Linked DNA regions of Homo sapiens. The protein of the gene in region 1 purifies or fractionates together with the protein of each later gene. This does not show direct contact. Each region holds a gene or a part of one and is shown in the gene's direction. Other genes may lie near its edges.

Region 1 (3,500 bases):
GATTAGTAGTCTAAACTTAGACATTTGCCACATCCCTGGGATGCTTTTCTCTTTTTTTGTATCAGAGACAGGCTTAAGATCTAGCAGACAGCCATGAAACAAGTGGAGCTCACAGAACCAAATCTCACCTCAAGAGAATACATTCCATTGCAATGAACAGCATCCAAAGCACACATTTTTCCTTCTCAGATAGGGGTCCTGTCCTACTAGGTGTAATGTAGGGTAGTTTGGAGCATCGACTATTTTATTTCTTAATTTCAAGACAGTGACTTTGTTTGAAAAGTAAACACAAAACGGGAAAAAGATCATAACTCATCTATTGCAAAATTATCTACAAGAGGCTAAAGACCCTCTTTCTATCACTACAATTCATATCTCTCAGAGTTAGTAAATTGGGTGTGTTTATTTCATGACTTTTTCTTATGTTTATACAGACATTTAAAACAAACACACACAAATAAAATATTTAAATTAAATAAGCATTAAATGCCATTTTGTGTGTATGTATATATATAAATATACCTATAGAAAAGGGACTTGCTATACATATTTTTAAATTGCTTTTTTTCATGTAACTATATACATGGCCACTTTCCTACACCAGTCCATGTAGCTCTATTGCCCGCTATTTAATAACTGCATATGTGTATGTCATAATTTATTATATGGCTCCCATATTATTTTAATATTTTTTATATTTGGAACAATGCTGAAATGAATATTTTATACACACACATATTCTTATGTCTACGTTGTTATTTCTTTCTTTCTTTTTTTTTTTTTTTTGAGATGGAGTCTTACTCTATTGCCCAGGCTGGAGTGCAGTGGTGTGATCTCGGCTCACTGCAACCTCTGCTGCCCAGGTTCTAGCGATTCTGCTGCCTCAGCCTCCCGAGTAGCTGGGTTACAGGTGCCTGCCACCACGCCCAGCTAATTTTTGTATTTTTAGTAGAGACGGGGTTTCACCATCTTGGCCAGACTGGTCTTGAACTCCTGATCTCGTGATCCACCCACCTCGGCCTCCTAAAGTGCTGGGATTACAGGCGTGAGCCACCGCACCAGGCTACTACATTGCTATTTCTATAGGATAGATTCCTAAAATGATTGCTGGATCACAGGATGCTATTATTTGCAGAATATACTTCAAATATCCAAGAAAGTCTACTAAAATATTTAATATATACTTGGACACAAAATAAATATTGAAAAAAATCAATGTTTTCATTTTCTATTAATAATTGTTAGTTGAATTTGAAATGTAAAAATAATTCGATTCACAAGATCTATATGAAAATTTACTGAAAGATATAAAATAAGACTTGAATGAAAGAAAAGACATGCATGATCCTGGATGGGCAGACTTACTATTACAGTGCAATGCCTCCCAGGATTTTAAATTCAAAAATATGAAAAAAACATTAATTAAAGAATCTCATCCAGTAGGATACACATCTAACATTGTAAATATTTTTGGGAAAATGATGAATGATGTATACATTTGACTGGATCAAAGGGAAAGGAATACTTGCCGTATTAGATAGTAAAAAATACTACAAAGTTACTATGAGCACAATATGGCAAACTGTAGGTACTACAAATTATATATCATTAAAATAGCAAAGTATAGGTACATATAAGTAGAACAGATTAAGTCAGGAGGAAAAGTCTATTCAATAGTGATGGAATAATTATCTATTTGGAAGAAGACAAAGTTAGGGCTCTAGCTCACACCATATTCATAATACATTCCAAATGGATTTTAAATATATAACTATAGAAAGCAAAATTATTAAATCATTAAAAGAAAACATGAGATAATATATTTATTACATTGGGATGGGGAAAGCCTTCCTAAGCAGTTTCATAAAACTCAGGAAGTCATAAAGGAAGAAAATGGGCAGATTTAATTAAATTTTTAAAAGAAAAACTTCTACATACTAAAAGACATCATATTGAATAAAGTATTTGCAACATATTTGATGGTTAAAGAGTTAATGTTTTTAATAAACAAAGATCCCCTAGAGATCAGTAAGGAAAAAAACAACCCAATAGAAAATAAGCAGTTGGGTAAGGACAGGCAATTCCAAAATAATGGCCCTAAACAGCACTTCTATCTCCTGATTATATGAAAGGATATTGAACATTACAAATGATTATAGAACTGGAAATTAAAATTAGATATACATCTTTTACTGATCAGATTAGCAAAAAATGAAAAGATGGATTTAATTTAATACTATTCATGACCTGAGGAAATAGCCATTTACGTCAGTGAGAGTGTAAAGTGCTATCACTATTTGGATGTATTTTGGCAGTAGCTACTAAAATAATAAAAGCCAGGCGTGGCAGTGCATACCTGCAGTCCCAGCTACTTGGGAAGCTAAGGCAGGAGGATAGCTTGAGTCCAGAAATTTGAGGCCAGCCTAGACAACACAGTGAGGCCTGTCTCTAAAAAAAAAAAAATGAAAAAGAAATAATAAAGACAGGCAGTTTAAGAGCACAAACTATATATGCTCTTACATGAGGGAATTTGGGGTTATTTAAAACTTGCATACATACTATTATATATACAGTTAAATTACATGCATATAATAGCATTTTATGTCATTAGCTTGACACAAGTTTAAAGTATTTCCTTATTTCTTCCAAACATTTTCTGGTTTACTCTCTTTTAATTCAGTAGTTTCTATCCTAGCTCTTAACCACAGGATCCCTGTCTTTTTATGTCACTTCATTATCTAAATCTAGGATGAGCTCCCTAGGTTTCTGAATAAACCAGATTCTTTCTGTTTATTCTGTTTACCACATCATCTCCTTCCGTTCAAAATTGTACTCATAAAAGTTACCAGAACTCTGGTGGACTGGAATCCCCCAAACAACTCCTGGAAATTCTTCTTGCTTTCCTCTATTCAGCCTTTGAGCTCAGTCTCTGAGCTTTAAAAAATTACAGTGTATTAACTGCATAAGTAATATTAATACACCTTTGTTGTAGAAAAATATAGAAAATAAAAGACGAAACCAATTACATACAAGCCATCTAAGGATAAGGGCATTAAGTATTTTGGCATATAACTTTCCATACTTTTTTCCTGTGCTTATGTATGTGTAACCATGATTTACAAAAATAATATTATACATGCTCTTTCATCATCTGCTGTTTTTACTCAACCATTTGTTTAGAAGATTTTTATGTTTCAGTAAATATACACCCACATAATCATTGTTAGCCACTATTTTTGATCGACATGTTTAGTGTCCTGTGGTCTCAGAGCTGACTGGGACCTTAGAGATGATATTATTTAACCTGCTTATCTGATAATATTAGGAAGGAAGCCAAGAGGAGCAAAATGGCTTTAGTGCTACATAGCTAGTGGAAGAGCCAGTATCAAGACTCACAACTCCTAACACGTCATCCTGCTTTCTTTCCACAGTTCCACAGACTCGTCCTCTTCCCTTCCAGCCATGTTCTCCCCTATTTCTTTTTCTTTTGAGACAGAGTC
Region 2 (3,500 bases), on another chromosome or scaffold:
CTAGCACTTTGGGAGGCCAAGGTGAGTGGATCATCTAAGGTCAGGAGTTCAAGACCAGCCTGGCCAACATGGTGAAACCCGTCTCTACTAAAATACAAAAATTAGCCGGGCATGATGGCAGATGCCTGTAATCTCAGCTACTGGGGAGGCTGAGATGGGAGAATCACTTGAACCCGGGAGACAGTGATTGCAGTGAGCTGAGATCGCGCCACTGCACTCCAGCCTGGGCGGCTGAGGTGAGACTCCATCTCAAAAAACAAAATAACTAAATGTTAAAGTAGGTGATTTTGACTCAGTGTGAGTTGAATGGATGTAATATGGCCTCTCTTTATATTTTGCTACTTCTAGTACTTGAAATTTTAGAACAAGAGCCTTTCTCTATAGATCATCTATTACTAATTCATAATTCAGCATGATATTTATAATAGAAATGGTTTAAAAAGATGCCTATATCTTTAGTTCTTATTCAAATAATATTAGAGAATTTCTGTCCTCTTTTTTTTTTTCTTCTGCTTTTTAATGATTTCACTTACTAGCATCACCTCCAAAGAGAGATAACACTTATTTCACTTATTTGGTCCTTGTTGCTTTTTTTTTTTTGAGACGGAATCTCACTCGGTCGCCAGGCTGGAGTGCAGTGGCGCAGTCTCGGCTCACTGCACTCTCCGCCTCCCAGTTTCAAGCGATTCCCCTACCTCAGCCTCCCAAGTAGCTGGGATTACAGGCGCCTGCCACCACGCCCGGCTAATTTTTTGCAGTTTTAGTAGAGACGGGGTTTCACCCTGTTGGCCAGGATGGTCTCAATCGCTTGACCTTGTGATCCACCTTCCTCGGGCTCCCAAAGTGCTGAGATTACAGATCTGAGCCACTGTGCCCTGACGTTCCTTTTTTTATTAACACTAATAAGCAGCTCCAGTTAAGACAGACAGAAATAAGTACCTGATGCATAAGCACAGCATATCTTTATAAAGCTCTCTTTATACCTCCCCTCCCACATTTGTATCTATAATTAGAAATTTGATCAACACTGTTAACTGTTAACCTCTGATAGAGCAAAGTTGAGGCCTAATTACAACATAAGTCTGAAGAATGCTAATTGTTTTCCATGACCATAATCACCCAGTATCTCATGTAAGTTTATGTATCAGGTACCAGGAATCAGCTGGTACCATGTCAAAAAACATTGTGTTGGAACCAGTGTTTCTCCTTTGTGTTGTTCTTAATGATGGACTGTTTCAGATGTATCAAAAAAAAATGAGGAATAATATGGCAAGTACCCATTTCTCCCCATCCCCTTAAGAAATTAAACATTAGGGCTAGGCGCGGTGGCTCACGCCTGTAATCCCAACAGTTTGGGAGGCCGAGGCAAGTGGATCATGAGGGCAGGAGTTCGAAACCAGCTTGGCCAATATGGTGAAACCCCGTCTCTACTAAAACTGCAAAAAATTAGCCAGGCATGGTGGTGGGCACCTGTAGTCCTAGCTACTCATGAGGCTGAGTCAGGAGAATCGCTTGAACCCAGGAGGCAGAGGTTGCAGTGAGCCGAGATCATGCCATTTGCACTCTAGCCTGGGCGACAGAGTGAGACTCCATCTCAAAAAAATAAATAATAAAATAAAACATTAAAGACACAATTGAAGCCCCCATGTTCTCCCCAGTTCCTCATTGCAGACCCCATGAAGTAAGTACTAACTTAGCTTTCTCTTAAAACCTTTGTTCTTATAAACTCCATAGAAGTAGTATATGTTTCCTGAAACTTGCTGTGTGCTTCCATTTGTCTAAATCAATGTCGTACTTTGCTATATTCTGTCACACTGGTCCCTTCTCAGGCAGGCCTCTCTGTGTTGCTCTCCAGGTGGTGGTGCCTCCCAAAGAGCTCGTTTTAGCTGGCAAGGATGCAGCAGCAGAGTACGATGAGTTGGCAGAACCTCAAGACTTTCAGGACGATCCTGAGTGAGTGATCTTTTTGTGATCCCCATACAACAAATGGCTGATAATAGAATGCCCACTTATATCCAGTTTTCTTGTCTGGATTTTTTAAAATAACTTTTTTCTTCCTGTTTCTAAAAATAATTATTGTAGAAAATTGGGGAAATATATGTAAGACCATGAAGAAGAAAATAAAATTATCCCACCACCAGAGATAAACACCATTAGCATTTTGGCATTTGTCCTTCCAAATATTTCTCACCTCATTGGGATCATTCTATAAATACAGTTTTTTAGCCTTTTTCACTTGAATATATTTTCCCATGTTAATAAAGAAATTTTTAATTATATGATTTTAATGGTTGTGGACAGGATACAATACTCTGTCCCTAGAGATTGATCATCGGGTTTGTTCCCCACCCCCACCCCCTTGGAGGAATTAATAGATTTTACTCTCTCATATCTAATAACTGAAAAGAACCAAACCTTCCAGTAACTGGGGACTGTGACCATCAGAGAATTCAGTCTGTAGACTGAATGTTTTCAATGATTCGAACAGAGGATTTAATATAAATAATTGTTCACTTGTGTAACTTAAAAAGTGAAAAAGAACACTGAAGTAGCAATTTTATGCTACTTCATGGGCATAAAATTTCAAAGATAGCTATTTGATGAGCCAGCTACCACCCCTTAGGTGGAGGGAACAAAGGGAAATAGTTAGAATTATTAAAATTTAGAACTTAAACAAAGAGCTCCATGTAGCTGAAACTCAGGCCTCCAGTGAGCTGAAGGGGAACACTGCTTGCGTGGTCCTGGCATCTCGTGATGGCAAAGGAGGGGTGGCATGATTATACAAGAATTGGAAAACTTCAACTGCTTACTGCCACTTCCTCCTGGGTAAAGAAGCATTGCTGGGCCGGGCATGGTGGCTTACCCCTGTATTCTCAACACTTTGGGAGGCTGAGGCAGGAGGATTGCTTCACAGGAGTTTGAAACCAGCCTAGGAATAGAGTTAAGACTCCGTCTCTACAAAAAAATTTTAAAAATAGCCAGGTGTAGCAGCGCATGCTTGTAGTCCCAGCTACTCAGGATACCAGGGTGGGAGAATCAGTTGAGCCCGGTAGGCTGAGGCTGCAGTCAGCTGTGATTGTGACTGTACTCCAGCCTGGGCAACAGAGTGATACCCTGTCTCAAAAAAAAAAAGACATTTTTGGAGTGATGGCCACAGGGAACAGGGACCACAAGCAAACAGGAATCTCTAAAGGAAGAGCAAGACCCTTCCTCCTCCAGACTTCTAGTCTCCCTTTAGAGCCCGCTGCTGACAGAACCTGACAAAGAGCCATCCGATCCAGCAGATACAGTCCAAGCAGAATCCTGTGTCACAAAGCAAAATTGAGAGAGGTGCGCTTGGAGCTGAAAAATAATAGCTTAGTAAACTGGCACAGGGAACATTCACAGTCTTTGTTTTGTTTTTAGAGAAGGAGTCTCTGTCGCCCAGGCTGGAGTGCAATGGCGTGATCTCCTGCTCACTGCAACCTCCACCTCCCGAGTTCAAGCAGTTCTCCTGCCTC

What was found. Proteins that work in one complex are often made in the same cells at the same time.
Region 2: the proteins of C4BPB (region 1) and DCTN4 purify together in Homo sapiens (affinity purification with mass spectrometry; 3 studies listed by BioGRID and IntAct, with this or other methods). This does not show direct contact.

The regions. Positions count from the first base shown.
Region 1 is NC_000001.11:207,091,860-207,095,359, forward strand, and holds part of C4BPB (C4b-binding protein beta chain isoform 1 precursor), read left to right. Parts: intron 1-3,431; coding exon of another isoform or gene 3,432-3,500. UniProt on the Homo sapiens protein: Controls the classical pathway of complement activation. It binds as a cofactor to C3b/C4b inactivator (C3bINA), which then hydrolyzes the complement fragment C4b.
Region 2 is NC_000005.10:150,714,018-150,717,517, reverse strand, and holds part of DCTN4 (dynactin subunit 4), read left to right. Parts: intron 1-1,855; coding exon 1,856-1,953; intron 1,954-3,500. UniProt on the Homo sapiens protein: Part of the dynactin complex that activates the molecular motor dynein for ultra-processive transport along microtubules.